Linked DNA regions of Homo sapiens: regions 1 and 3 are each linked to region 2. The links come from fine-mapping of genetic effects on gene expression. A gene starts in region 2. Each other region holds a variant in brackets. All regions are shown on one strand. Distances are from middle to middle. Region 1 overlaps KANK4 (KN motif and ankyrin repeat domains 4). Region 2 holds the start of KANK4 (KN motif and ankyrin repeat domains 4). Region 3 has its middle 51 kb from the start of USP1.

What was found. PIP is the estimated chance that this variant, and not a neighbour inherited with it, causes the effect.
Region 1: its variant is the best candidate, but not a certain one, in a credible set for the expression of KANK4 in amygdala (GTEx, PIP 0.73).
Region 3: its variant is the best candidate, but not a certain one, in a credible set for the expression of KANK4 in subcutaneous fat (GTEx, PIP 0.65).

Annotation. Positions count from the first base shown.
Region 1 is chr1:62,298,151-62,300,909 of GRCh38, forward strand. The region is part of intron 1 of KANK4 (KN motif and ankyrin repeat domains 4); the gene reads right to left. It also overlaps the pseudogene RNU6-371P. Among named protein-coding and RNA genes, the nearest start is that of KANK4, 20 kb to the right of the region's middle. The variant T/C (reference allele first, on the strand shown) is at 1,227.
Region 2 is chr1:62,318,174-62,320,932 of GRCh38, forward strand. KANK4 (KN motif and ankyrin repeat domains 4) reads right to left here and starts at 1,261. Exons shown (of 10, transcript NM_181712.5): 1 at 933-1,261. RefSeq lists enhancers at 1-578, 579-1,301.
Region 3 is chr1:62,384,540-62,387,298 of GRCh38, forward strand. No RefSeq gene overlaps it. Among named protein-coding and RNA genes, the nearest start is that of USP1, 51 kb to the right of the region's middle. RefSeq lists a silencer at 2,239-2,533. The variant T/C (reference allele first, on the strand shown) is at 1,544.

The DNA of each region.
Region 1 (2,759 bases), 20 kb before region 2:
AAATATGAAATGCTTCATGAATTTTTGTGTCATTCCTTGTGCAGAGGCCATGCTGATCGTCTCTGTATCATTCCAATTTTGGTATATTTGCTGCTGAAGTGAACACAGGAATCTGTGTTCTAACCAGCCAGCCCTCCAGGTAATTTTTATGCACACGATAGTTTGAGAAGTACTGTTCTAACCTACTGTTAAAAATCTTTGGTAAACTGTAGTTCATTGTTTCTCAAACTGTAGTATGCCTATAAACCTGAAGATCTTGTTAACATGCAGATGCTGATTTGGTGGGTCTGGAGTGGGGCCTCATAGTTGGCATTTCCAACAAGCTCTCAAGAGATGCTGATCTGCTGGTCCCAGCACCAAGTAGCAAAGTGTGTGGTCAGGGTATTTGTCTGGTTGGGGAGGAATGGGAAGGAGCTCAACAGCCCTAATCATGATTCCTAGCACCAGCACTTGAAACCGTGTGACCTTGGGTAAGTCACTCTAGCCCTTGAAGCCAGCTTCCTCAGCTATAAAATGGTACAAAGTAACACTCTCCACTGTATAAGGCTGTTCTGATGGCTACATGCCTATACCTTACACAGTACTTGGCATGTAGAAGACACTGAAATACAAGCTGTGGTTGCTGTTGTTTTTGAGGGAAGGAAGAAACTGGTAAGTGCCCAATAAAAGTCAGTTGTTTTGTTATTATTTATTGAGAGTTGTTGTGTGGTATATTAGGCACTGTGCCAAGTACTACACTATTATTATTTACTCTTCTCAAAGACTCTATGTCTCTATGTATTATTTTTTTTTTTCTGTTTAACAGAATAGGAAGCCTAAGCTCAGAGAGGCTTAGTAACTTGGTCATAGTCACAAAGATAGTAAAAGGCAGAGCTAGGGATGAATTTAGGTGTTCCTGCCCAAGATTTTTTTTTTTAAGACAGTGTTTTGCTCTGTTGCCCAGGCCGGAGTGCTGGATTACAGTGGTTAAAATCACAGCTCAATCTAGCCTCGACCTCCTAAGTTCAAGTGATCCTCCTGCCTCAGCCTCCAGAGTAGCTGGGGCCACAGGTGCATGCCATGATGCCTGGCTAATTTTTAAAAAATTTTTTGTAAAGACAGGCTCTCATTATGTTCCCCAGGCTGGTCTCAAAGTCCTGGCTCAAGTGATTCTCCCGCCACAGCCTCCTAAAGTGTTCAGATTACAGGCATGAGTGACACACCCAGACAACTGCCCAAGCTCTTAA[T/C]GGCCCAGACTGAAGCCTGGTTCTGTCTGTGCCCACCTGAGTCTAGAAAAGGTGGTGAGCTGGTACCTGATGACCCCACAACATGGCACAGTACAGGACCGGGGGTGCAGAGGTAGAGAATGGGCAGCAGCAGACAGAAGCCTCAAGGAAGGATTGCCAAGGAGCAGAGAAAAATCAGGCACAAGAGAAGGGGCGGGACCAGGTTCCAAAAGGATTTAGACACCCAGCAAGCAATCAGGAATAGAGCCTACAGTGATGAGGACCGTGTCTTCTTTACTTCTGTTTCCCAAGTGCTTAGTACAATGCTGACCATAGTGCTGCCTCATAAAGATGTAGCAGCTGAATTAATGAATTATTTAAATAATGGATTAATTCATATTTTGAGGGTAGCAAATGATTTGAAATTTGTAGGTAGGATGTTTTGGAGTGGGAGAGAGATGTTCACCTCTGGACTTTTCTTTTTTAAAAGAGTGAGCCGTTCAAAATAGAACAACTGGAATATTTCCCTTGGAGTGCTGCCAGTGCACACAATGCCTCCTTTTCTTCCCAGGTCAGAAGGCGTTTTGGGCCCAGCCCCTCGGCATGTGTGTGCAGCCTGCAGCCTGTCCGACATACTTACCCACTTGTGCTCTGGAACACAAAGGCCTCCCACCTGCCAAGCCCAACACAAATGCCTCCTTCACCACAGTCCTCTGGTGTATGTGGGTTCAGCTGCTGCTGCTGCTGAAAGTCCCCCTCCAGGGCAAAAGTGAGGCTCCAGTGGCTCCAGTCTCTCCACGACTGCTCAGAGAAAGAGACCACAATGCTTTCTCAACCATTGAGTCCCCTTCACTGGCCACAAGGCATGAAGTTCAATAGCCCAGTAACTTGAGGAAAGAAGAAAAGAGACCCTTTTCTGTTCAAAGACCAGCCTCGACAGATTGTGTGCAATCATCCATTTATCAGAAATTCTTCTTCAGGCACTGGGCTAGGTTCTGTGGACTCATGGATGAAAAAGACAGGGTTCTTTTCTTTAAGGAACTCACCGTCCAAAATGGGAGGCAGAGACCTAAACAAGGACCTATGTGGTGTTAGAGAGGTGTGGCTGGAGCATCTCAGAGGATCAGAAAAACATCACAGATCTGGTATTTTTGAGCTGGGCGTTGAAGGATGAGTAAAAGTTAAGCAGGCAGATGGGAGAAGCAGCTCTCTAGCTAGAGATGAAAACATGTATGGTGGGCTTGAAGAATGACCAGCAATCCTGGCCTAGAGTACAGGGTCGGGGAAGCGGATGGCGGAAGACAGAGGTTGGAAGTCAGCTCATTTTATTTTCTAGAATAGGAAACCATCAAAAGTTCTTAAGCAGGGAGGAACAAGACGAAAGCTGGGTTTTAAATACAACTCTGACTGCAATGAGGGGCGTATGTCCCCAGATTCTGGACTATTAGTAGACATTCAATAAATATTTACAGAATGAACAACTGACTTCAAGAGGGAAATAGCAAGTCTGGCAAGCAGTCTGGCCAGACTTAATACCTTTCCCTAAATGCTCCT
Region 2 (2,759 bases):
CCCTATTTGGTAGATAGGACTTTGCCCAGGCCTCAGGGGGTCCTCCTCCCTCTCCTGGAAAATACTCCCTCTTTGCCCTAAAGGCTTGCACTCCAGGGCGCTTAGGAACTAAGACTTGAGTTTGGCAGCCCCGAAGGATGCCCAGGGCAAGAGTTAGGTTCAGACCCAGCGTAGCGGCCATGGGCTCGACTTTCCAACTCCCATTTCTGGCCAGTCTGCGGGGTCAAAGTACCCAGTCACAGATTTGACCTTACCGGAGAGGCAGAAGGGAAAGGAGCCCACAGGAGGCATGCGGGCTGGGCAAAGCGCCCTCGGCGGCGTCTAGAGCACTCGGAGCTGCCCCATTGCCTCCGCCCAAGGTCGCGGCCCAAAGGGAGCCCTGGAAAGTTCAGCCAGGGGCCGAGGAGTGCCAGGGTTGGCACTACGGGGAGACTTTTGCGACAGGAGAGAGACTAAGAGCTCGATTCCAGGTAGCAGTGGGAGCCCGCGGCAAAGAACGCCCAGTCCCGCAGGCTGCATCCCAGACCGCAGCGCCTAGCTCGGAAAAGCTGGGCGGGGGCTGCACCACCTGAGTCGCAAGGACAGCACGGCCTCCCCCTCCTCACCAGTGTTCTCCACCCCCAGAATTGGGGCGCGGAGAGCCAATCTGGGCTGGAAAGGGAGCGGCGCCCACCTTTGGGCAGCCCGAGCAGCCCCGCTCCTTTTCTGTCGCAGACCCCAGGCTGGGAGGCGGGGGCGCCAGGTCGGCCCAAGCTGCCGCAGCCACTGCTTTAAAGGGAGCCGGGGACGCGGCGCTGGGGACTGGGCGAGGCGGGTGGCAGAGGCAAGAGGAGAGTGGTCGAGCGCCGGGGCCAACACTCGGGTCGCGCAGGGCGGGTGTTGAACACCCCAGCAGACGCACTGCGGGGGACTGGGGTCGCAGAGTCCCTTACCTTGGCGAGCTGCGGAAGTCCTGCGCGAGGCGGCCCGCGGTGCACGGGGCCGGGGCAGCTAGGCGCACACCCCGGCTTCGGAGCGCACGCAACCTCCGGGTGCACTGTCCGCGTCCCAGGCGCGCACCCCGGGGCTGGCGCACCCTGGTCGTCCGCGGCGCGCACACCCTCCAGGCGCCCTCTGGCCGACGGTCTCGGCCCTGGCCCCGGCGCACCCCTGCGGGCACACCCACCGCGGCGGATGCGGGACTGGCCAGGCGCCGCCAGCCGCGGCTTCGCCCCGCGTCGCCAGCTGCCAACAGCGCCCGAGTCCCCGCCTTCGCTAGGGGAGAAAAAAAAGACTCCTGACGCGGCGCGGACTTTGGTGTGTAGGAAGGGGCAGAATTGCGAAACCGAGGGGAGGGTCTTAGCCTCGATAAACTCAAAAGCCCTTGATAAACATGAGCTTAGAAGAAAAACTTTTTGAAAAGAGACCAAAAACTCCTAACCTGTTCATAGCGCTTTTCAGATTCCCAAAGTGCTTTCGTATGCGTTTATCTCGGTTCATCTAGACATTTCCATCCTCATTTGATAGGTGCAGAAACAGCACCAGACAAGGTAATGACTTGCCCCAGCCAGGACTGGAACCTAGGTCTGGCCACTGGGAAGCTGGGTGCAGTAAGTTAGGTCCTCGCCAGCGGATGTGGGCCAGTGAGGGCTGGGGTCCTAGTAACAGAACTTTTACCTCTCCTAAATCGTCTTTTTCCATCTCCTTTTTTTCTTCCCAATCCTTGCTGTAGTCCCACTCAGGAACCCTAAGTCTTTCATTTCACACTCCGACCTCCCACCAAAGGTTTGTTGTTGTTGTTGCTGTTTGAGACGGAATCTCGCTCTATGGCCAAGCTGGAGAGCAGTGGCGCGATCCCGACTCACTGGAACTTCCGCCTCCCTGGTTCAAGCGATTCTCCTGCCTCAGCCTCCCGAGTAGCTGGGACTACAGGCGCACACCACCACGCCCAGCTAACTTTTGTATTTTTAGTAGAGACGGGGTTTCACCATGTTGGCCAGGCGGGTCTCGAACGTCAGGTGATCCGCCCACCTCGGCCTCCCAAAGTGCTGGGATTACATGCATGAGCCACGGCGCCCGGCCCACCAGAGTTTTTTATCAGTTCAAAATGTTTGCGTTTCAACCGCTAACCTTGAATGAACAGTTCACTAAGTGCCTGGTGGGCGTTGTGCACCCTAACCCTAGGAAAAAGGAGCTGCTGCTACTCCTCCTTTACAGATGAAGACAACAGAGATAGGCAAGTAGAGGGCCGTGGACCCCGTAAGACTCCGGATGCCAGCTCTGACCCCCACAATGGGCATCCTTCATGGGCCCATTGGCAAGGGCTAACACTTAGGCAAAGGGGTTTCGTTTTTGACATTGTGACCCAGATGGGGGAGTACTTTCTAGGACTTTCATTTTACGTTTTTATAGAAATATGGTTATTTGAACGATTTCACTTCCACTAGAGCTCCACTGGAGCAAATCAATATCCCAGAGCAATAATAAATGGCAGCAGAGACTTGGTCCCAGTGTTGGGACATAGTAGGGAGTGGTGGGGACTGTGGTGAGCTTGATAGCAGCTCCAGGTTCTTGCCCAAGGGAAGGGGCTGCTGCTACTCAGCTCAGTCTATTTTGTCATCTAGGGAAAGGGATTCATGTGGCCAGATCCTCCCATTTTGAAAAAGAAGCCATCAGCCGGACACGGTGGCTCACGCCAGTAATCCCAGCACTGTGGGAGGCCAAGGTGGGTGGATCAGCTGAGGTCAGGAGTTTGAGACAAGCCTGGCCAACATGTGAAA
Region 3 (2,759 bases), 66 kb after region 2:
TGTACAGCCTGGGGAACCGTGCATCAGTTAAACCTCTTTTCTTTATAAATTACCCAGACTCAGGTAGTTCTTTATAGCAATGCAAGAACAGACTAATACATTGTTGCTACGGTCAGTTAGCACTTCTCAGATGCTTACTATGTCCCAGGCGCTCTGCAAAGCACTGCTGAAGCATTGCCTTTTTAAATCCTCTCAACAGTCCCCATTTAACAAGACACAGAGCAGATCAGCAGCTTGCCCAAGGATCAGCCAACTAGAACCACCATGTGTCTGACTCCAGATTACATCACTCCACTCTACCTCTTACAACAGTCTGCAGCTGTTGCCAATGAAAACGCCTGTACAATAGAATGCAAAAAATAAATAAATAAAGCCTCTGGGATGGGGGCCAACAATTGAGACTGGAACCTGGGATAAAATTGTTATTGCATCAAGCATTAATTTAGAACTAAGCCTCCCAGAGACCAAGGCAAAATGTCATATGGTGTCTGACTTTTAAAGAGAAGCCCTGCTCTTCCCTTCCCTCACCCCAAACCTGGCCCACTCCTACACATTTACTCATCGTTAAAATCTAGGAGCAATCTACATTTGCTAGGCACTTTTCAGTTTTTCAAAATATATACTTGTTCCTGACACCAAAGTCTCAGCTAAACTGATAGCGTGGATTCTCATAGGAGGAATACTGAGTGACCTGATCAACAATATCTTCATGAGAGTTGGTGCAGGGGTTGTGTGACCACAATCCCAGTGACTACTCTTGGTGTCAGCCCTCGATAAAGGCAGGCAGCAGAGTGTTCAGTCTGTGGGCCCTAGCAGGAGTAGGTAACAGTGGATCATAGGGCTCTTTGCCCGACAATGAACTACTGTGATCCATTCAACTGCAAGTAACCATTAACACCGTTGTGTGGAAAATCATGCATTGCTTTATACTGTACTCTTTTTTTTTTTTTTTTTTGAGATGGAGTCTCGCTCTAGTGCCCAGGCTGGAGTGCAGTGGCGCGATCTTGGCTCACTGCAAGCTCTGCCTCCTGGGTTTACACCATTCTCCTGCCTCAGCCTCCTGAGTAGCTGGGACTACAGGCTCCCGCCACCACATCCTGCTAATTTTTTGTATTTTTAGTAGAGACGGGGTTTCACTGTGTTAGCCAGGATGGTCGCAATCTCCTGACCTTATGATCCGCCTGTCTCGGCCTCCCAAAGTGCTGGGATTACAGGCGTGAGCCACCGCGCCCGGCCTATACTGTACGCTTATATGGGACAAGGAATAGCAGGTCCAAATATTTAAGAAAAAATTACAGAAGAAATTAAAATTTAAAATGATACCCATTGGCCTAATGTATTTTCCTGAAAACTGGGGGAAATACAGAAGCACTAGATTTTAGTAGGAGAACATCTTGGTACAGCTCACAGAAAAGTAGTGATCACAAAATAAGGTTACATGTGAGAGGACAAAGTTCCTTAATACCTCCATTATTTTTCATGCGGGGCGGTCCCTGAAGTGCGGAGGTCAAAGCAGTCCACGGGTAAGGAGGAACCGGCCAAG[T/C]TGGAGGAGGCAGAGCTGTGAGCTTGCTGCCCTTCCAATCCCTAGAGTAGGGCAGGGGCCACCAGCTCTCAAAAGTCAGCATTCTTCCATAGAAAGGATTCCTTTCTGTGCCATAGGCTAAGCATTCTATTTCTTACTCTGCCACTGGGCCTAACAGCAGTGAGCTAATATGTTTTATGAATTTCTAAGACAGAGCAGCTTAATGCTGCCTTTCCCAAACTTTGATCAAGGAAAATCTGTATTGGCAGCACATCTATTAATATCTATATAACAGGGCTCCTCACGACACACTGATCTAATGTAATGAGCAGACAATGGTGAATAAACTTTGGCCCATGACCAAGGGAAAGGAAACATAATCCTTGTGTTGTGCTTTTATCTTGCTTTCTAGTTTAAATGTTGGTTTCTCTTTAAATGAGGCCCTCTGATTTACAGGAGTCCTTTGTGCAAGAAAAGCGTATTTGCATTTCAAAGTCTTACATTTCCCAATACAGCCAACTTCTGAGAACACATTTTACTGTGATAAAGACCTTTCTGAGATTAGAAAGCTAAACAATAGTACAGTGCATTAAAAAAGTTCTTTACTATGGAATTAGCCATGAAAGACCCATAAATACTTAGACTATCTTCTTTGTCTGTGAATCCATTGGACAACTACATAGTCAGCCTGCTAAGGAAATACGTGACCATCCATATGTGGGTGGGTTAATGGGTAGTAACTGTAGGGCATGTATCTTCCAGGAATATTAACTATTCTCCAGCTGGGTGACTTTGACAAATCACTTCCCCTACATGCATCTTAATTTGACATCTGAAAAATGAGGGTGTTGGATTACAGCATTTCCAAACTTCTCCAAAGATAAGAATCCCTGGGGTAGTGGTTAAATATTGAGATTACTAAACCCTCCATGGAAATTCTGATGAAATGGATCTGGGTTGGAGCCCAATAACCTGGTTTTTGTTTGTTTTTTAGTTGCTTGCTTCTATGCTTGCTTGCTTGTTTGCTTTTAAACAGGAGCTTTAGGTTCCTATCTTCAAGGAAGTTGGGGAAACCTTGACTAGATGACTGAGAGACTTTCCAACCCTGCCATTCTGTAATTCTATGATTCTGCGAGGTAGGCCATCCACCAGCCCCCTCACTAGGAGTTAAAATAAGATGTTGAGAAATTTTTCTTTTGTAGGTTCTCGCCGATGATGGAGGGACATCTGGTTAAGT